Linked DNA regions of Homo sapiens: region 2 is linked to region 1. Evidence: fine-mapped expression QTL. A gene starts in region 1. The other region holds a variant in brackets. All regions are shown on one strand. Distances are from middle to middle.

Region 1 (11,142 bases):
GGGGCAGACGGGACAGCAGTGTGAGCACGCTGATGCTCGACATCACACACTGCAGCCACGATGAGACAGCACCACACACCCATCACGATGGGGCAGACGGGACAGCAGTGTGAGCACGCTGATGCTCGACATCGAATACTGCAGCCACGATGAGACAGCACCACACACCCATCACGATGGGGCAGACGGGACAGCAATGTGAGCACGCTGATGCTCGACATCGCACACTGCAGCCATGACGAGACAGCACCACACACCCATCATGATGGGGCAGACTGGACAGCAATGTGAGCACGCTGAGATGCTCGACATTGCACACTGCAGCCACGATGAGACAGCACCACACACCCATCAGGATGGGGCAGACGGGACAGCAATGTGAGCACGCTGAGATGCTCGACATTGCACACTGCAGCCACGACGAGACAGCACCACACACCCATCAGGATGGGGCAGACGGGACAGCAGTGTGAGCACGCTGATGCTTGACATCGCACACTGCAGCCACGATGAGACAGCACCACACACCCATCAGGATGGGGCAGACGGGACAGCAGTGTGAGCACGCTGATGCTCGACATCGCACACTGCAGCCACGATGAGACAGCACCACACACCCATCAGGATGGGGCAGACGGGACAGCAATGTGAGCATGCTGAGATGCTCGACATTGCACACTGCAGCCACGATGAGACAGCACCACACACCCATCAGGATGGGGCAGACGGGACAGCAATGTGAGCACGCTGAGATGCTCGACATTGCACACTGCAGCCACGACGAGACAGCACCACACACCCATCAGGATGGGGCAGACGGGACAGCAGTGTGAGCACGCTGATGCTTGACATCGCACACTGCAGCCACGATGAGACAGCACCACACACCCATCAGGATGGGGCAGACGGGACAGCAGTGTGAGCACGCTGATGCTCGACATCGCACACTGCAGCCACGATGAGACAGCACCACACACCCATCACGATGGGGCAGACGGGACAGCAGTGTGAGCACACTGATGCTCGACATCGAATACTGCAGCCACGACGAGACAGCACCACACACCCATCAGGATGGGGCAGACGGGACAGCAGTGTGAGCACACTGATGCTCGACATCGCACACTGCAGCCACGACGAGACAGCACCACACACCCATCACGATGGGGCAGACGGGACAGCAGTGTGAGCACGCTGATGCTCGACATCGCACACTGCAGCCATGACGAGACAGCACCACACACCCATCATGATGGGGCAGACTGGACAGCAGTGTGAGCACACTGATGCTTGACATCGCACACTGCAGCCACGACGAGACAGCACCACACACCCATCAGGATGGGGCAGACGGGACAGCAGTGTGAGCACGCTGATGCTCGACATCGCACACTGCAGCCACGACGAGACAGCACCACACACCCATCAGGATGGGGCAGACGGGACAGCAGTGTGAGCACGCTGATGCTCGACATTGCACGCTGCAGCCACGATGAGACAGCACCACACACCCATCAGGATGGGGCAGACGGGACAGCAGTGAAACACCAAATACTGACCAGGTGGAGAAACCGATCAGCTCTGCATTGCTGGTGAGAACCTAAAACGGTGCAGCAACTCGGGAAACATTTCAGCCCTTCTTAAAAAACTAAACGTGCAACCTCCATAAAACCCAGTAATTTCACTTCTGGCCCTTTATCCGAGAGAAATGAAAACTTACATCGACACAAAAACCTACACAAGAATGTTTATAAGAGCTTTATTCATAACAGCTGAAAACTGGAAAGGACCCAGATGTCTTTCAGTGGTTAAACACACTGTGGTACGTCCATGTCATAAAACACGACTCAGCAATGAAACTATCTATGAACTACTGATACAGCAACAATCTGCATGGACCTCAGGGGGTTATGCTGAATGAAAAAAGTCAACCCGAAAGGTTATATACTGTTTGATTCCATTTACATAACATTCTTGAAATGACAAAGTTCTGGAGATGAAGAACAGATCAGTAGCTGCCGGGGGCTATGGAGGGAGGGGCGGTACACAGGGCAGCACGTGAGGCCCCAGGGATTGGGGTATCTTGACCGCATCCTGGCAGATGTCTTGGCTGTGACACTGCACTATCGTTTTGCAGATGCTTCCACTGGGGAAAGCTGGGTAGAGGGTACACGGGCTCTCTGCATTACTGATGACAACTGCATGTGATTTACATGACCCCAAAATAAAATATTTAATTAAAAGAAACTGAGTTGGGCCCAGTGAACTCAACCAGTCCCTTTCAGCTCTAAAACTATGTTTTCTGGGTCAGGGGAGGAAACAGGAGGTACAGGAACACTAGAGGGGAGAAAGCACGGAGAGATGGGAAAAGCACGGAGAGAGAGATGGGGAAAGGGCAATCAAGAAGACTGAGAGAAAAGGGGGGAAGCAGAATGACAGAGGAGGTGTGAAGAGAGAGAAGCCCTCTGGAGTGCTGAAATACTGAATATTCTCCCCTGGGAGCTACTCAGGGTAAGAATTTCTCCAGGGACTGCTCTTTCGGGCAAGCACAATTACACACATTTCTATGTTATGTTAAGTAAAAATCTAGTAAATGGGCTGGGCACGGTGGCTCACACCTGTAACCCCAGCACTTTGGGAGGCCGAGGCGGGCAGATCATGAGGTCAGGAGATCGAGACCATCCTGGCCAATGTGGTGAAACCCCGTCTCTACTAAAAATACAAAAATTAGCTGGACGTGGTGAGGGGCGCCTGTAATCCCAGCTACTCGGGAGGCTGAGGCAGGAGAATCACTAGAACCAGGGAGTCAGAGGTTGCAGCAAGCCGAGATCGCGCCACTGCACTCCAGCCTGGCGACAGGGCAAGACTCCGTCTCGAAAAAAAAAAAAAATTCTAGTAAATGAAGCGAGTGATCAGGACAAAACTAGCCTCTCATCAATAAATCAACCAATAGCGCTTATCAAGTATTCATATGTCTGCCTCTTCTTCTAGACTACACTAGGGGCTGGTTAACGCTCCTATGTGCAACAGAACCTCAAACACATCGTAACACACCTTTGGAGAATCCTTACAAGAACACCAACTTAACAGTTCTCTCTGACCACACTACCTCAGCAAAAAACCAGGAAGAAAAAAATATTCTTCAACCCTTTTCAGGGACAGAAAGCATCATTTCAAAAGTCCAAGAAGGGAAGGTAAGAATTTCAAAAGTGAAAGTTATCATGAAAGGCTATAAAAGCTGGAGATGAGTCTGAAAAACAAATGGAAAATGAGTCACTTCAGGGCCTCTCCCAGCCTCAAAGCCAATTAATTATTACATTAGTCAGAGTAATTTTAAGCCTTCCAATCCACTCACCCTAGCCACAGGCAACAGTAGCCTCTCCAAGTGTTAAGGGTTTTTTTTCCCAAGCCTGCAGGCGGATGAGCTTTTTACATGGCAGCCCCTTAGGATTGGATGTGGACCTGCCCTGTCTTTCACCAAGAAGCAAGCACTGCGCAGATCACTGAATCATAAAAACCACCTGCTCTTACCAGCCTCCTCTTCCTCTACAGCAAAACTTCTGACCTGAGACATGGAAGCAGATAAAAAGCCACTACACAAAATGTATCGCTACAACTAGAGGGCAGTTTTGCCTTTCTTCCATTCAATTATTCAGTTTCTCATGTTCCTAAGTGCCAGCCCAGAACCATGGAATGTGAAGAAACACAAAACTCACTCCTCTGCATCAGTGAATTGATTGTGTGGTGGGGATGTAAGTCTGCATATGACCGGCAGGTCCCCAAAGTGGTGCCAAGTCAATCTAAACTAGAGAGAATTTTTCTGGCCAGGCCAAGCAGAGATTTCATGGATGAAGTCTCCCAAAGACTGATTTCCTAAACATTAAACATCACTGGTTTTCCAAAACTGGTTTTCTTTTTTTTTTTTTTTAACCCTGTTGCTCGGGCTGGAGGGCAAGTGGTGCCATCTCCACTCACTGCAGCCTCGACCTCCCAGGCTCCACTGATCTTCCCACCTCAGCCTCCTGAGTAGCTGGGACTACAGGTGTGCACCGTCACGACTTGCTAATTTTTGTATTTTTTTGTAGAGACGGGGTTTTGCTGTGTTGCTCAGGCTGGTCACTCGATCTGCCCACCTGGGCCTCGCAGAGTGCTGGGGTTACAGGTATGAGCCACCACGCCCAGCCCACTGGTTTCCTTTACACCCGTTTTGTTCCCCAGCAGTCCTTATGAGGGCACCTGAAATAAGGAACCTCCTCCCCGACTTGAGAGCAGCAAAGCCTTCAGAGGGAACTAAGTTATTAAAACCCACCCCACACAAAATGCTTCTAAACGCCTTGGCTGACTTAATCCTTGCAGTGTGCTGAGGTTAAGTATGATTATCCATCTCCTGTGAACAGGAAGACTGAGGCTCAGAGCTTAAGTGATTTGCCCACGGTTCACTGCAGGGGATAAAACTCGGCTGTCCCTGGCAGGTCCCAAAGTCACGGCCTTCAGGCTCCCACACCATGCTGCCTCCCTCACCGGGGCTCCACACTCTCAGCCTGGAAAACACGAATTTTAAGAAAACCATGACTTACGAAAAGCAGCCAATCCCAGCATTGGAACCAACAGGGCATAATTCCACCTGCTTCCATCACCACCATCCGCCCTGGAATTAGGCCGGATATTCCAATTTGGGGGATCATTTAGGTTATTCATGGAGATATACCTTGAAGTAAAGAATAAAAACGTTAACTACTTTTATTCAAGAAATTTTTCTTCAGTTTTAACTATGTGCTTGCTGCACAGCACTGAGGCCCTACGGGATTCAAAGAAGAAAAAAACTAGACCAGAGCCGGGCATGGTGGCGGGCACCTGTAGTCCCAGCTACTCGGGAGGCTGAGGCAGGAGAATCGCTTGAACCTGGGAGGTGGAGGTTGCAGTGAGTCGAGGTCGCGCCACTGCACTCCAGCCTGGTGACAGAACGAGACTCCGTCCCCCCCAAAAAAAAAGAAAAAGAAAAAGGAAAAAAAAAACAAGAACTTAAGATGAAAGCGACTCACAATCTGGTTGGGGAAAGTGGAGAAAACAGACATGTCTTAAGCATCTGAAGTGCAGGTAGAATCAGGTAAGTTCTCTGGTACAAATATGTTTAAATGTATGGCTGCTGCGATGGTTAATTTTGTTTGTCAACTTGACGGCATCATGAGGTGCTCAGATACATGGTTAAGCATTATTTCTGGGCGTGTCTGTAAGGGTGTTTTTGGATGAGATTAGCAATTGAACCTTTAAACCAATTCCTCACGTCTCCCTTCTATTTGTTGTGTCTCTGGAGAACCCTCATACAGTTGTATCAAAGATACAGAATCAACTCGATAAAAGTGGGCTCACACCGGACACTTTCATATGAGCTAGGGTTTGAAGAGTGAGCAGCATTTTGACAGGCAGAGAAAGAAGGAAAGGGTCTTCTGATCAGAAGGAAGACTGTGAGGAAGGCAGGGAGGGGTGATGTGGGGAAGGTGCAAACAGTGCTAGAAGCTTCTGAGGCCTCCTCGTGGTGGTGATGAATGCAGAGATTACAGAGTTCTCTGCTTCGGGCTCAGCATGCACCCTCCATAGCTAGGCTGGGGGCTAACGTTAGTAAGAATTTACTGATTTACTGAGTACCTACACGAAGTTTCACATTTTCACAAAGTAGAGTCACTTTAAGTTTGTTTACATGTGACCTCCACAAACACACACAATTACAAAATAGTTTAGTTAATCAAGGGATGTATAATAAACAAGAGGTCGGAGGCCCCGGGCCGCTCCCGCCCACCTCCGCGGACGAGCGCCCCCCTCCGACCCCATTCCCTGCGGTCTGGGCGTTCAGGCCCTTCGGTCTGGGCGATCCCGGAGAACCACCCACGGGGCTTTAAAAATGTTGGTGCCCACCACCTCCCCGGAACAGGGCCCGCTCTACCTCGGTCGGGGAGCGCGGGACCTCAGCGTTCCCTTAACGCCACCGTCCGCGGGTCCGCTTTGCGCAGGCGCGGCGCCCCCACTCAGTACCCGCTCCGGGCGTGGCATGGTGCGCAGGCGCGATGTCCCCCACTGCAGCCCCGCTCGACTCCGGCGTGGTGCGCAGGCGCGGTATCCCCCCTCCCCCGCCAGCTCGACCCCGGTGTGGTGCGCAGGCGCAGTCTGCGCAGGGACTGGCGGGACTGCGCGGCGGCAACAGCAGACATGTCGGGGGTCCGGGGCCTGTCGCGGCTGCTGAGCGCTCGGCGCCTGGCGCTGGCCAAGGCGGTGAGTCCGTGCCGCGGACCGGGGCGGGGCAGGCGGGGGCCGAGGCGGCGGTAGGAGCGGGACGGTCCCCAGCGGGTCCGAGCGGAGCGGGCGCCGGGTCCCTGCGCCCTCTGTCCCGGGATCGGGAAGGGGCTGAGAGAGCCCTGGGCCGGTGCGAGGGGAAGCCGCGGGGCGGACTCGGGGACCCGGGGAGCTCGGTCCTTAGTAGATAGTCCGCGTCCGGGTGAAGGTCACAACCCCGCGGGCTTGCTGGGCGTCCCCTCCGCCGCCTTGGTCCGGGCCTGGGGTCCTGGGACCCCGCGGGCTGAGGTAGCCCCTCGCCTCAGTGCCTGGCAGGTGGACTCGGGGAGGAGTCGTGTCTGCCCAAGGTCACCCGGGCGGATAGCGGCCGGTGGCCGCCCTGGCTGGGCTGGGCCTCTGCCGCCCTCTGTGCGGGTTGTCCTGAGGAGCAGCCCGCAGCCCGTGGGTGGGGCCGGCGGGGCGGGTGAGACCGCCCGGGTGGGTGCGAGGAGTGGCCGGGCTCGGCCCGGTGGGCGTCCGGTGGGAAGCGTGGCGCGCCCGAGCTTAGGCTTGCAGTTCGCCTTTCCAGAAAGCGCAAATCTGTCCATGTCCACTTCGAGACCTTGTAAGTTAAGGGCTTCTACTTTGGGTCGTGTTTGGTGGTCCTTATGCCACCAAAAATGTGCCAGTGTTTAAAAGCAGCTGTGCCAGTTTTTAAAACTCAGGCGGAGAGCTCAGCGCACTGACCGGGCGAGGACGCCGGGACCTGTGCTTGCCTGTGCGCTGAGTGCCTCTAGGGCCGGGCTCGGCTTAGTCCAGGATGGTGGTCAGGGTTATACTTCCCTGAGCCCTTGCTCTCTGAGTGTCTGAATGTGCCCTCTACGATTGCATCTTAAGAATCGGCCTTCTAGGGTTTTATTTAATCAAGCTAAATTGGATAGGTTTAGTTGTTTGGTTCTTTTAAATGAACTTACCCACCCACCTCCTTAATTACAAAGTAATTTTAAATTGCAGAATAAAAATCTCAATAGGAACCAAGGCATTCAGCAATATTGATTTGAATTATGCCTGTAATTGTGCAATTTTCTCCTTTTTGAAATACTTATTAAAAATCTCGTTGAGTTAAATGTGAGGATTAGTCATACAGCCATCCTGCCAACATCAGAAAGCGTGTAAACCGTTCTAGTGTGTTGCTGTGGTTGGTACTGACTGAGCAGAGACCCCTGCCGCATCTTGGGCTTTTAAGAGCTGCTAGGAGGGCGTCCACAAGCAGGAAGGAAAGCCCATGGTCAGTGGGGCTTTTTAGGGGAAATGGTAGCTTGTGATTGGAGAAAAGCTAGAGCTAGTGCCTTTGTCCTCAACCCAGATGGTGCCCGGTGTTCCTTCTGCAGACTAAGACCCTGCCAGCGGCGGAGGCACCTCAGACGGGATGGCAAGATAGCAAAATTGAACCAAAATTTAGTCTTGGGTTTTGTAAAAGTCTTTTTATCTTGATGAAGTTAGCTTTTCCTACAGAAATTCTGCCTGCAAGCAGCATATTTATCGGCATTTCAGATAGGCTTTTTTTCCTGAAGAATTGGAGTTTACGAAGGAACAGCATAATCAAAAAATTAGCAGAAAAAAGAAAGAAATTCGTGATAGCCAACTGAGAAATGTGTTTGGAAAATAGATGCTGAGGATAATTTCAGTAAAGTCCAGAGAGAATTTTTTAACCTCATTTTGGCCAGTTCTGTGGTGTTTTGATCATTCTGTATTTACAACTGCTTTCAAGTGACGAACTTATCAGACTTATTTTGCTTTTGGTTTCTTTTTATGGCCCAGTGCACTGACACAGCTTGCAAACTGTTCGAAAGCAGTTTAATCAGAGGAAAAAGAAAACCAAGAAACTTCAATAGTTACTGGTTAACTGCTTACTTCAGGTGAAGTTTTTCAAATCCCTTAACATGAACATCCAATATATTGTTCTAGGACAAATTGATTTCTTTTCTTTGAATGGATTGTTCTGAATATGTTTAATGGTGTTCTAGAAATACATTATTTAGGCCATTATAGTAGTAAACCTTTGCTTTGCTTCTTGGGATAATTGTAACAACAATGGCATTCCATTCTGCATTCCTCATGATGTTTTTCCTGATTTATTTGAAAAATTGTGACTTGTTTTTTGATATGAAACCTGGATATTAATATTAGTTGGGAGTCTCAGAGATTTTTCCCAAGGGTCTTTAGATAGGGGGGCAAGTCCAGGATCCAGAGCCAGGCCGGCCGACTTGAATCCTCTCTGAGCTCCGTCTTTCCGTGGGGTTAGTGAGGATTCTGTGGGTAATGTTTGAAACCTTTGGTGATGCTCTTGAGAACCAGGGCTCACAGCCTATGCACAGTAACCATGTGTGAACTGAATTTTTTTTTTTTTTTGAGACAGAGTCTCACTCTGTCACCCAGGCTGGAGTGCAGTGGCGCAATCTCGGCTCACTGCAAGCTCTGCCTCCCGAGTTCACGCCATTCTCCTGCCTCAGCCTCCTGAGTAGCTGGGACTACAGGCACCTGCCATCATGCCCGGCTAATTTTTTTGTGTTTTTAGTAGAGACGGGGTTTCACCATGTTAGCCAGAATGGTCTCCATCTCCTGACCTCGTGATCCGCCCGCCTCGGTCTCCCAAAGGGCTGGGATTACAGGTGTGAGCCACCACGCCCGGCCGAACTGTATTTTAAGTATCCCTGTTTTTAAAATAATAAACACTAAAATTCTAGTGAGAATAATTACACGCAGTTGTAAAAGAATCAATGAGTATACCCTCCCTCACCCAGTTCATTTTCCATGAAAGCAATTCCTGTTTCTGATACTGACTCCTGGCATTTGTAATACCTCTGTTTCTTTAGCGGATATGCAGGTGCATTTTTATCAGTTTTAGACTTCTTGCCTAGAGAGGGGATTTAGTTCACTTAAACTACCCTGCTTCCGCTTCTTCCTGATACAGTCGTGCGTTTTTAGGTTCTTCGTTGGCTGCTTTTGTGATTGTGTAGGTTGTACATGCAGATTAGTTTCTTGCTCGTGATTTATAGGTGCGTTGTATTAGATGAGGACCCCTTACTTTGCTAGATTTCGGATATGAATGTCTCTGCACTTCTTACTTTTCCCCTCCACCTCCTAATTCAGTCATCTGAAATTCTGTATTGTTAAGCAAGGTCTAAGTATTCCTTTTAGTTATATGTTCCCCATTTTTTTTCTTGAGGAAATGTTTGATAGTTTCTCCTAAAAAAATTAACAATTGGCACAAAAGACTAGTTTTGTGTCAAAACTAGTTTTGAGTTTTATCTAAAGACTGAAATTGGCTTAAAGTTGGGCTTTCCAAATTCAAAAATCTGCCCCAGATTAGATTTAGATTGAGAGGGTTAGTGTCCTTTTCGCCAGGGGGATGGCGTGATAATTTGTTCAAGATTGTGTTATAGTAGCTGCCCCTTTTAAGCCAGCTCTGTGTGTGTGTGGTGGGGGGTGGGCAGTGGGTCTTCCACATCAACATCCTAGAAAGAACGAATAAACATTGAGTGATCTCACTGTTTCTACTTACATTTGGTATAATATACTGTTCTTACTGGTGCTATTACTATGTTAATAGGGCACTTTACAACATTTTCAAGAACATTTGTATTAAAATTATTTCAAAGACTTCTTTCTTAAAATATGATTTTACCATGCAAAAATTTTACTAAGGTAGAAGAATATTTGTTCTTTCTCATTCATTTTCTGAAAAAAGAAAAAAGCTGAATTAGCTTATACCAATAAAAACAGAGACTAGAAATTGGAGAAATGAAGAATAATTTTTTATCCCACATAATAAGTAATTTCTGAATTGCAAGTATTTCTAAATACTTGAAGACATTCCTCACATCCCCTCTTCTGATTGCATTTATTTCCTAAAGCTTTTTTTTCTTTTCTTTTTTTTTTTTTTGGAGACGTTGTCTCTCTCTGTTGCCGAGGCCGGAGTGCAGTGGCACAGTCTAGGCTCACTGCAGCCTCTGCCTTCTGGGTTCAAGCGATTCTCCTGCCTCAGCCTCCCAAGTAGCTGGGATTACAGGTGCCCGCCACGACGCCCAGCTAATTGTTAGTAGAGATGGGGTTTTGCCATGTTGGCCAGACTGGTCTTGAACTCCTGACTTCAGGTGATCCACCCACCTTGGCCTCCCCAAATGCTGGGATTACAGGCATGAGCCACCGTGCCCAGCCCCTAAAACTATTCTTGATGATATTTCTGAGACTATTCAGTGGTCTTCTCAAATGTAGCCAGCAGAATGGAAAACGTATCCCCTAAATGGCTGGCCAACCTTAGCATATGGACAGTGTCACCTCTCTCACACAGAGCCACTAAAAACTAAACACCAAAACCAGTTTTCTTGGGTAAAGTTTTCTAAGATGGAAAATTTAAGCAGCAAGATGTGTCAAGTTGTAGATGTTGGCCAGGAAAAAGCCAGCAGCAGCCAGGCAGGGGAGAGTGTGCATCCGACATCCTCCTGTGTGATGAAGGGATGACACCTCGTCCCTCTAGGCTGTCAGCTTTTACTGTTCCAGGATACAGATCTCCTGATTCAATGTTGAGTGCCTTTTGAACTGACCACAAGCCCTCCTGGACGATTGGAACTGTAATGTGGAAAGGGCTATGATGGAGCCAGTTAAAATGCTTCATTACTTGCAAAATACCACATACAGTAATACAATATACACGTCTTTCCCCTTCTCCACTAAGTAGCATACATTAAGACTTCACAGAGGAAGTGTGCCTTTTTCATTTCGTATCTGAGTCAGTGAGTATCCTGTTTGGAAACAAGCTTCATCCTGGTTTTCTAGAGTGCCAAGTCAGGGTGGAAACGAGGACCTGGGGGC
Region 2 (11,142 bases), 160 kb after region 1:
TACATATTACAATTCATCTTCAAAAGGCAAAACGGTTTCTCATCCAGTTCTTGAGAAGGGAAGGAAGGGAGAGTTTGAATGTTCGAAAGCCTTGAGGCTCTGGTCCCCTCATTTGACGTAAAACTTGCAAAGGCATTTGTAGGAATGGTTGGGGTGTGAGAGCAGGGGTCAGAGGTGCCCTCCTGGGAATGTCTTGGCTCTGAGAGCACTGCCCTGCCCTCCCGGGCTCTTGCTGGTGCCCCATCCTCCCGGGCCCTCGCTGGAAGCCCCGTCCTCCCGGGCCCTCGCTGGAAGCCCCGTCCTCCCGGGCCCTCGCTGGTGCCCCGTCCTCCCGGGCCCTCGCTGGAAGCCCCGTCCTCCCGGGCCCTCGCTGGTGCCCCGTCCTCCCGGGCCCTCGCTGGAAGCCCCGTCCTCCCGGGCCCTCGCTGGTGCCCCGACCTCCTGGGCCCTCGCTGGAAGCTCTGCTCATTTACTCCCCGTGTTACGGTTGTGCAGCATTTCCTGGATCCACAGTCAGGTCAGGCAATTCTGGGGCGAGCAGGCGTCGGGGAAGGGTTGGATGGGCGTCCCAGGCTTCTCAGAGCATCCCATCCAACTCCTGGACGGGAGAGGTGTCGTAAGGGTCCCTCAGGAGGGAGCTTGAGCTGGAAGCAGGGGTGAGTGAAATCAGGTTCAAGGGAAATTTTCACCAAGGTCATCCGCCACCCCCAGGACCCTGAGAGTCTCACAGTGGGTGCAGCCCCAGGCAGGTGGTGGTCCATAGGGGACAGCCCCCAGGAAGATGCAGGTGACAGGGGTGGGGTGGACAGCCCATGGGAAGGTGTGGGTGATGGGGGGACAGTCCATGGGAAGGCACAGGTGATGGGGTTGGGGACAGGTCTCGGGAAGGCACAGGTGACAGTGTGGGGTGGAGGGGGGCAGCCCATGGGAAGGTGCAGGTGTTGGTGGGGGGAGGGGGGCACGTTCCCATCATGCTTGTCCGACCTCCCTGGGTGGCTGGAGGAGGAAGTGATCCAGAGGAGGCCTGCCTTGGAGGCACCCAGAGCACAGAGGCTGGGCCTGGTGTGGAGCTCTCGGCCGACCTCGGGCCGGGCTTTACAGGGCATGTCAGTTAGGGCTCTGCAGAAAAACAGAACCGACCGGAGACAGATATGGGGAGGCTTATTATGAGCAGGTGTCTCAGACAGCTGCAAGCTGGAGACCCAGGAGAGCCGAGGTGTAGTTCAGTCCAAGCCCAGAGGCCTGAGGGCCAGGGGCGCTGGGGTAAATTCCCGCCTGTGGCCGGAGAATGGGAGATGAGCTGATCTGGCTCAAGCCATGAGTCAGGAAAAAGGGGTGACTCCTCCTGTCTAGTTCTCTCCAGCCCCCCATGGACTGCCCAGCCACACTGGGGAAGACCACTGGCTTCACCGAGCCCACGGATTCAAATGGGACCGCCATCTGGAAACACCTCCCAACACAGCAGGCACGATGTTTAATCGCAGCACCCAGTGCTGCAGGTGGTTGATGTGTGACATCGGTCAGCACACTAGGCCTGTGTCCTCATTAGTTCGAGGGCCGGCTGTGACTGCCAACAGTAGCTTCCCATCTGAGTCAGGATTTCAGCCCAGCCCTGCTCTAGGCTTTCTGAGTGAGTCTCTGGGGCTCTGAAGTGATGAGCTTGCAGGTGACAGGAATCCTGCGTCCCATTCCCTGGGCAGGTGCAGCAGGGGCTGGCAGGCTGCCTCATGCACGGGTAAGCCCCTGTGTGTCCCATAGTAGGACTGAGCATCTGGGCCCACCTGTCCTAGACCCACCTGTCCTGGGCCCACCTGTCCTGGGCTGACCAGTCCTGGACTCACAAGGTGGCTCTGACTGTCCTTCCAGGCCTGTGGAACCGACTCCCGTGGTCGCTGTTGAAGCCCTCTATGGTGAAATGCTCCCAGGAGCTGCAGACTGCCAGACAGCTTTACTTAGGATGATTCCCTAGAGGGAGTCCTAAACCGAGTCAGCTTGGGGGCCGCCTGCTCCTCTCTCCCTTACGCCCCTGTCTGTGGAGTTCTGTCCCTTCCAACGAGGATGCTTAGGGTCGATGTGCCTGTTAAGGGCTGAGTGAAAACGATGGAGAAGAAAGGGATCCTGGGCCTTCCTCTCATCTGGCTGCTTGCACCACTCAGGCCCCGCCGAGGGCTCTGCAGAGAGGCAGGCAGTCCTGCCAATAGGGACCTTCATGAAGCACCCACATTCCTTACCACCTTCTCCCCTCACAGGAAGGAAGCAGCAGGGTTTCTGCTGGTTGAGCTCCTCCTCCAGGCTTCCTGGATAGGAAGCAGTGGTGCTGCTCAGCACACAGCCCCTCAGTGCCTTCCCTCCTCCCCCAGGGCTGGGGTGGGCTGGCGGGGCCACCCCTGCTGATCCATCCCTTGGCTTCTGGGCCCAGCTCCCCTGACTGCACAGAGGGGACTGTGGAGCTGTGGGCTGGGGCCTCATGGAGGCATGTCCTCCTTCCCAGCCAAGGTGCTGGGATCCTGACTGTCACCTGCCCCAAATCCAGCCTGGGCCCTGTGCACCCTGGGATGGGTCACAGGAGGCCTGAGAACCAGGTCCAGGCTGCGGTTTGGGTGAAGGACAAAGGGACGTCCTCTTCTGCTCGCTTTGCCTGTTCTGCTTCTTCTGTTTCTTCATCTCGCCTTCTTTTCAGCTCCCCCTGGGCCCAGCTCCCTGTCCAGCACTGAAGACCTGAAATGGACCTTACTCAGCCCTGCACAGAGCAGGAAACTTCAGCCGCAGTCGCTGCACAGGGCTGGGGTGCGTGATCTCCAGTGGCAGGGGTGCGTGATCTCCAATGGCAGGGCTGACCTCCCACCCTCCGTCTGCACCGCCTCCCCCGCCCCTACCAGGGAATTGGCTTCAGGGGACTGGGAGCAATGTGGCTTCGTTTCTGGGCATCACGGCATCACCCAGACGCACAGCTGGACCTGCCTTCTGGCTCCTCCTCCACCAGGGACTGTGGGTCAGACCGAGTCACAGGCCCAGGTGCTCGTGGTGGGGGCCAGATGGGGTGGCCTTGGGTTCCCGGTGACACCTTGCTCTGAGTCTCCTCTGTGTGAAGAAACAGAGGGCCCTTAGCAGGACCCCATGGGAAGCCTGAGCCCCCAAGGGAGCCACTCTGCTCCAGCCCTTGCTGTGGGCACAGGGTCGCCCGAGGCCTTGGTGCTGACTTCACATTCTCGCTGTTCCAAATGAGCCCCTTCTTGGTTGCAGTGAACTCTGCAGCCGTGGGCGGACGGCTGGTAATGGCCCTGAGACTCTCCAAGGTGGCTGAGGTTCTGCGCGGTTGGCAGAGTGCTGGCAGGACACAGGGGTTGCCCAGGCTACAGATCCGGGTTCAGGCCCAGCCGTGGGGACTGTTCACCTCTGAGAGGGCAGCCCTGCCCCGCGGCCCTGGCCCTGCCCTGCACCCGGCTGGGTCTCATCTGACACGCAGCCTTCCAGCCTCTCATTGCCCGAGGGGTGGGCCCTGGGAGTGGTCCTGGCAGGGCCCCTCTCTGCAGACCCTGCGGGACCAGCAGGCCGGGCGGTGGCTGGGAGGCAGGGGACAGGTTGGCCTCTGCGGTCTTGGAGGCACAGAGCTCCTCCCGCCCTGGGCCTGTGGCCCCCTCCTGCTGGCCCAGCTGTGCCTTGTAAGGGCCACGGTGATGGCCCACCTTTCTCACCAATGCCCAGGAAGGACACCGCGCTCCCAGCTCCCTTCCTCCCCATCCACTCACCATGGGCAACTGCGGTGGCTGGGCGGAGGGGGGGTCTCTCTCCACATCACAGAGGAGGAGACTGGGGCTGGAGAGGTGGGGGATGGGGGCTCCCTCCCGGGGCGGACCCTCAGGTGGGACCCCCAGGCTCAGGGAGGGCGGGGGGACCTGGGGAGGCCGTGGCCGGGTCCGCCCGCCCCGTGTGCACCCGGAGCGCCCGCGCGGACCCCGAGCCCCATTCCCCGCCACGCGCCTGGCGCTCCCCGCGCTCCTGGGGCTCCTGGCGCCCTGCCCGGGCGGGCGGGGGCGGGAGCGCTGCTCGCACGCGAGGCCTGGCTGGCCCCATCGCGTGACGGCGCCGGCGGCTGCGGGGGAAGTAGGGGGGAAGTGGGCGGGCGCCCGCGGGGGGCACGCGATGCCGGGAGGGGCGCGCCCCTGCCGCCGCACCTACGCGCTTCTCGGGGAAAAGGCCGGGGCTGCCGGGTCCGCGGGGCGCATTGCGGGTGGGACGGGGTCGGCTCCGCTGCGGGAGCGACCCCTGCAATGGGGCTTGGCTGCACCGGCCGCCTGGGTGGTCGGTCTGTGTGCGGGTGACCCAGGCGTGTGCCCCCACCCGCGCTGCCCCAGCCCGCGGACCTCGGCGGGGAGCGCCCAGGGCCAGCACGGGGGTCTCACGGGGCGACCCCAGCAGCGTCTGTGTGGGGCCGCTCCTGCCCGGGTCTCTCCTCGGGCTCGGGGTCAGCTGCTGGGACACCCGGGGCGCCTCTTGCCCTGGCTTCTCCTGGGTCTGCACTTGGGAGAAAGATCTTGATTTTCACTGTTAAAAACCTTCAGCTTTCTGAACACGCGTATTGTGTGAACTGTGGCGTCTCTGGCTGAGCCTGGAGGGCAGGAGGCTAGGATGCTGGGGTTTCCAGGTGGGAAGAGGCCGCCCTTGCCCAAGGGATGCCCCCACCTCGGTGGACTGTTCATGCTTCCTCGGAATAGTCCTGCTTTGTGGCAGAAGAAATGGGGCAGTTTTTGTTACATTTAGTGCAGTGAACAAACATCCAGTTTTTACCAGCTATGGGAGTTGAGGGAGAAATGAGGGCTCAGAGACCAGGGAGGGAGGGGAACAGAGAGGCCGAGTCCCAAGGCCACCCGGTGCCACCGTCTCCGGGCTTCTGGCTGCCTCACCTCCTCACTCGGGCCCTCGCCCCCCACGGACACCTTAGCTCGTCAGCATCCCTGCAGCTGGTACCTCAGATTCTGAATCAATGGCTCCCAGTATGGCCTTTCTGGTGGAGGGTGGGGTGCTAGCCCAGTCCAGCAGCCGGTTCCGGGGTCCTGGCCTGATGGGGAGCAGGTTAACCCAGCGTCCGGACCCCACCTGTGCTCACCACGGCCTGGGGACACCACAGACGCTGGTCCTGTGGGTCTGGGGGCTGCCGGCCCAGGGACTGTGGGGTGAGGAGAGCTCAGAGCAAAGTGTGAACCACTTTGACTAGCAGGTGGATGCCTTCCTGGAAGTCCAGGAGGATTCCTGGGAGCAGGAGCCAGTGACCCACAATGAGGTTCAGGCCACACACATTTCAGAGCACTCTCAGGTGACAGACACAGTGCCCCTGGGGCTGGAGACTGGGAGTCCAGCCCACCCTGAGTGAGACATTATGCTTTTATTCAAGTGGTTATTCTAGTTCTTAAAATATCCAGCAGCCTCACATCATTTTGGGACTGTGATGGGCTACAAATAGACACGTGCGCTTTTCGATGAGGCGGTGCCCCTCAAACTTGATTTTCTGTCTGGGTCGGGCTCTTGCTGAGCAGTGGGGTGGAGGCAGCCAGGAGTCTAAGCTCGGCCCAGTGGGGAGTGAGGGTGGTGGGGGGCTGCTTTGGAAAGGGCTGTGTCTCCCTAACCCGCGGAAGTGGGCAGATCCGGTGAAGCATGGCCGCCTGGGCTGTGCCACGCCGGGACCCCGGCACAGGCTGCCCACCGTGAAGGACGGTGTGCTGGCCTTAAGGTGCCATGCGTGATGACAGTTTTTATGCCATCTCAAGGTCAGAACTGGTGGCAAGGTAGCATCTGCCTGAGCGGACACCACCTGTGACTTCAGCTGAGGATCCGGGAGACGCGGGAGCAGCAGATGCCCCCCCGGCCTTGCTGGGGTGCGCTTTGGTCCACGCACTGGGGCCAGCTGCTTGCTGGGACACCCTTGCCCCTCAGTCCTCTCAGAAGCTGGGGAGGGGTGTCCCTCCCATGTCTCCAGTGCCCATGAGGACACTGAGTGGGCAGTGAGCACCTGTGCTGGGTCCGGAACTCAGCCCTTGGTCAGTCTGGAAGGTGAACGTGTCATCTGTCCCCTTCTGCACCCAAAAATGGAGAATGCACCATCCTCAGGAGTGGGAGTGTCCTTGGGGGCTGTGCGCAGTCACTGGGAAGG[G/A]GGTAGCACTGGCGACTGTCCTGGACCTGCCTTTTCCTGCCCTGCGGTGTTCTGTGCGGCCCCTGGGGGCGTGGGGCCTGGCCTGCTTCTCACTAGGGAGGGGGCTGCGTGGGTTCCAGGAGGGAGAGGCGATGCGGGTGTGCAGGGCACAGAAGACCCAGGTGGACGCAGGGGACCTTGGCCCAGCCCTCAAAGGGGTGCAGCCCAACAGTGCCGTGGGTCTCAGGGGAGGGGCCGTAGGGACCTCCTGGGTGGCTTCAGGGGGATCTGGCAGGAAGCCAGACTTTGTCCCAAGACTGGGTGGGGGCCCTGGGGGGTTGGGCAGGAGGGGACAGAGAGCAGTTTCTGCAGAGCAGAGCGGGTGTGGGGGCGTCCTCAGGCCAGGCTCTGCCTCCATGTCCTGGTGTCCCCCTGCCTCTCCTGGCTGATCTGAGGCCTGTGTCTCAGCTCCTCCTGCCCCACCTTGGACTCTCAGGGCTGTGGAATGCTGCGTGGCCTGCAGAGGGGTCAGTGCAGCCCAGGCCAGATGTCAGGTGAGAACCGTGGGGTGAACGCGGGGAAACACAGGAAAGATGTGAATGAAGAAGAGTGGCCAGGCCAAGGGTTGGGGGTGCCTAATGTGTCTTTTCTTCTCTGACAGTCGTGCAGGAGCAGAGCTCACGGCAGCCTGCGGCCGGCGCCCCCTCGCCCGGAGACAGCTGTCCTCTTGCAGGGTCTGCCGTGCTGGAGGGAAGGCTGCTGTTGGAGGTGAGTGCCACCCTTGGTACCTCGAACACTTGACACTTGGTTCTCCGTGTCACGCGTGTTCAGGCTCAGTCATACTCCGTGTCACGCATGTTCAGGCCCTCACCCAGGAGGCCCTTAGGTTGTGAGGTTTATAACTGTCAGGAAGCGTAGGCTCCAAAATCTGTTGAAGAAGGGTGTCCCTGGGTCGGGGTCAGCCTTGGGTGTGAGCCTCGTAGGCTGGGACAGAGAAGGCAGCCCGAGAGCTCTCGGCCTTGTGTGCTACATCAGGAAATCATCCTCATTCTGCACCGTCTGCTTTTGCTTGTCGGTGAGAGAACCTTGTACAAAATTAAGCCTTTTTTCCCCCAAAATGAAGGATTTGGCAAAGTCTACACTGGGCTTCCCTGGTGTGGTTTCAATCTTGGGGTGGCCTGTGTGACACCCTGGAAGCTGTGGGCCTGGGCAGGAAGCTCTGTGGTGAGGGGGCTTTTCACCCCATCTCCCCCATCCCTGCGACTCTGAAGTGCTGAGTTGTCCTGTGCTGTAACGCGGGGCCTGTTACCCCTCTGGGAGAGGAGACTGTGGACCATTTTCCTAAACAAGATAAGATGGTGGCATGGAGCCTCCGGGGTGAATCCATTCGCCATTTTGAAGATGAAGGGGGTTGCTGCCTCCACCAGTGGCTGGAGAGACATGGGCCCTGGGTGGTCCCAGGATGGGGTTGAGTGGGCTTGCAGGGAGGAGGCGGGGACAACATGACATTTCCTGGGTAACAGGGTGGGCTCCAGCCGGAACTCAGGACCCCTGGGTGGGGCAGGAGGGCACCAGCCAACCCGCTCCAGATGAGAGGGTACTGGGGCCCTGGTGGCAGGCTGCCCCACAGCCAGCAGCCACTAGTCTCCCATGGAGCTGTGCACCCCCAGTGCCTGGGAGGGGCTGCTCAACCCCCTGCCCCAGATCCTCCTGTGTGTCTCCAGGTCAGTTCACAACCCCCAGCTCGCTCTACTCTGTCCCCGCTAGTGAATGGGTCCCAGCTCCTGGGGCCTGGGAAGCCTGGAGCCTGCGGGAGGGAGGCCTGGGCCTGGTTCCCTGCTGCTGGACTTCCCACCCTGCTCCCAGCAGCGTGGGATATTTTGGAGCTACCTTCAGGGGGACTCTCCAAGAAGACTTTGGAAGAGGCATGGAGGCTGGGGGTCAGGGTCCGCCCGTCTGCTCCTGACACTGTGGCCCTCCTGCTGCCTGGCCTGACTCCCCTACCTGGCCAGAGTGCTGGTCACACCCACTCTGTTCTGGGGGAGGTTGAGCAGTTCCCGAAGTCTCAGTCCACTGCATCTGGTTCATGTCCTCTGGCCCACGGAAATTTCTGGAAGTTTGCTTAGATTGCATCTGGTAGGTTGTATGGTGAGGGTTCCTCACTGATTGCCAGGGCAGTGAAAGGGGTTATATGCTCTTTTTGAAGCTTAAAAATATTCCAACAGGGCAAAATAAGCAAAGCAAGCAACAACAGCAGCAAATCCCAGCTTTTATTTCTAATCTTCAATCTCTTCACAATAAACTGAAAAAAAGGGGAGGTTTATGGCAGGGCACCCTAAATCCATAAACCGCCTTGAGCCGGCACAGGCTTCAGAGTGCTGTGGCCATGGTCTGTTGATTTAAGGTGAGGAAGTAAGGCTTGGAGCCACCAGGTGCCCTTTGGGGCTGAGCTGGACCCAGCGCTTCTGTTTATTTATTTATTTAAGATGCTCCACACGTTCAGAGAGGCTTTAGTAATGATCTAGAAATGACCCCTGAGAGTGTAGTCTGGACCTGGTGTTTCTTTGTCCTGAGTTCACTGGCTTGTCCTCCAAGCCTCCGGCCTTCCCCAGGGAAGCCAAGACAGATGGGCCACAGCCCGTGGCTTCCCCTGGTGCACATCTTGGTGCAGGTGCTAAGAGTGGGAGGATGGAGGAGTGGGGAGAGGTGGGAGACTGGAGAGGGAAACAAGGAGGAGGGCTCCAAAGACATGTGAGCACACAGAGGAGGCCCTGAGCTCCCTGCACAATACGAGTCAGAGCTTCTAGGTTTTCATTCTGTCTTTTAGGTGGGCTACAGGGCTGTTGGGTTTAGCATGACTCACTGGAGCCACGGATGTGGCCTGTCTCGGGCTAGGATGCTGTCTCACTGACTGCTTAAGTTCAGCTAGAATTCAAGTGTATGGTTACTGCAGGATACATTTTCTAACACTTATTTAAAAATTTACATACACTAAAGTTCATTCTTTTCGGCATTCAGTGGGATGTGACTGCCACCGTCATGAAGATTCAGAGCCATCCCCTCCCCAAACATTTCTCCTCTGCTGCTGTTTGCAGTCACAGCCCCCTGCCCCCAGCCACGGCCGATGTGTGCTCTATCCCTGCAGCCTGTCCCTTGCCTTTCTCTGGATGTCTTCCACACGGAGTCACACGCATGGCCTTTGGAGGCCAGCTTCAGTCAGCACAGTGCTGTTGAGATTTGCTCACGGTGCTGCGGGTCACCAGCTGGTTTCTTGTTGTTGCTGCCGGTTAGGATTTGGGCTCATCCACGGTGCTGCGGGCCGCTGGTTTGTTTCTTGTTATTGATGAGGTATGGACCAACCCCATGTGTCATTCAACTGTTGAGGGATATTTGGGTTGTTTTTAGGTTTTGGTGTTTATGAATGGAGCTGCAGTCAATAGACGTTCACATACAGGTGTTTCTATGAGCGTAGGTCTTCGTTTCATGAATAGTAAGCGTGTTTTTAACTCTTATCCCCCAGCAGTGAATGAGTGTTTCAGTTGCTCAGCATCTTTGGGTTTGCACTTGGTATTACTTTTTTCAAAGCCATTTTAATACTGGAATCTTGTTAGGGTTTTAGTTTGGATTTCCCTGTGACTAACAATGCTGCATATCTTTTCATGTGGTTATTTGCATCCGTGTGTCATCTTTGGTGAATGGTCTTTCAGATCTTTTGTGCATTAAGAAAACCAGCTCATTTGCTTGTTTACTATTCAGTTTAGAGATCTCTTTATATATTCTGGAAACATGTCCTTTCTCATATGTATGATTTATAAATATTTTCTCGTAGTCTGTGGCTTGTCTTTTTATTCTTTTGACAGGATATTACAGATAGTGAAAGTATTCCATTTTGATTAAGTTTAATTTATCAATTTCTCTTTTTGTAGATTGATTTTGTTGCCACATCTCATTACCTAACCTAAGGTTACAAAGATTTTTCTTTTATGCTTTCTTCTAAAGTTGTATAGTTTCATATGTTACATTCTGGTCTATGATCCACTTTTTGTTAACTTTGGTATGAGATGTGTGAGGTAGGGGTCAAGATTTATTGTTTTTGCATGTGACTATCCAGATGTCTCAGCACCATGTATTAGAAAGACTATCTTTTTATACTGAATGGCGTTTATACCTTTGTGAAAAATCAATTGGCTGTATTTTTGTGGATCTGTTTCTGGACTCTGTATTCTGTTCTATATATCTGTATTTTTAACCTTTTAACAATACCACATTATCTTACCTACTATAGCTTTAAAATAAGACTTGATATCAAATAATGTGAATCTTTCAATTTTATTCTTCCTCAGAATTGTTCTGGCTATTCTAGTTCTTTTTTTTCCATATAAATTTTAGAATTAGCTTATTGACCGATATCTACAAAAATCCCTGCTGGGATTTTGATTGAGATTGTGACATATCAGTAAATCAATTTGGGGAGCATTGGCATTTGAACAATACTGACTCTCCCAATCCATGAACATGGTATGTGTCTCTATTTAGGTTTTCTTTAATTATGTTCATCGGTGTTTTGTAGTTTTCAGCATACATATCCTGCATATTTATGTTAGATTCATGTTTAAGTTTTATATTTTTGTTCTTAATGTAAATGAGACTTTTTTAATTTCAATTTTTAGTTCATTCCTAGTATATAGAAGTACAATTTATTTTTCTAGGTTGACTTTGTATCCTATGACCTTGCTAAACTCATTAGTAGTCATGGGAGCTTTTTAAAATAGATTCCATGGGATTTTTTAAAACATAGATTTTATTAGTCAGGAGTCTCCAGAGATACAAAACCAATAGGTTATATGTGAGGAGCCTTATTAGAGGAATTGGCTTACATGATCACAGAGACAGACAAGTTTCACAATAGGCTGTCTGCAAGCTGGAGAACCAGAGAAGCTGGTAGTGTGGCTCAGTCCAAGTCTGGAAGCCCCAGAACTAGAGAAGCTGATGATGCAGCTCCTAGCTCAAGGCCA

Alleles and levels. Positions count from the first base shown, and alleles are read on the strand shown. Sizes are in standard deviations (SD) of each study's normalised expression.
For the expression in subcutaneous fat of the gene that starts at base 6,169 in region 1, G is the high allele of the variant in region 2 and A is the other (large effect, 3.0 SD a copy in FUSION).

What was found. PIP is the estimated chance that this variant, and not a neighbour inherited with it, causes the effect. A credible set is the group of variants that fine-mapping cannot tell apart.
Region 2: its variant is the best candidate, but not a certain one, in a credible set for the expression of SDHA in subcutaneous fat (FUSION, PIP 0.81).

What each region holds. Positions count from the first base shown.
Region 1 is chr5:212,152-223,293 of GRCh38, forward strand. SDHA (succinate dehydrogenase complex flavoprotein subunit A) reads left to right here and starts at 6,169. Exons shown (of 15, transcript NM_004168.4): 1 at 6,169-6,267. The coding sequence starts at 6,205. It overlaps CCDC127 (coiled-coil domain containing 127), which reads right to left and starts at 6,002. Exons shown (of 3, transcript NM_145265.3): 1 at 5,942-6,002; 2 at 4,578-4,708. The coding sequence starts at 4,698. RefSeq lists silencers at 5,980-6,309, 6,540-6,779 and an enhancer at 6,179-6,987.
Region 2 is chr5:369,822-380,963 of GRCh38, forward strand. AHRR (aryl hydrocarbon receptor repressor) reads left to right here. Exons shown (of 11, transcript NM_001377236.1): 4 at 6,789-6,895. PDCD6-AHRR (PDCD6-AHRR readthrough (NMD candidate)) reads left to right here. Exons shown (of 13, transcript NR_165163.2): 6 at 6,789-6,895. Among named protein-coding and RNA genes, the nearest start is that of AHRR, 54 kb to the left of the region's middle. RefSeq lists enhancers at 1,023-1,162, 2,043-2,102, 2,890-3,520 and silencers at 3,533-3,612, 3,893-4,352, 4,403-4,542. The variant G/A (reference allele first, on the strand shown) is at 6,149.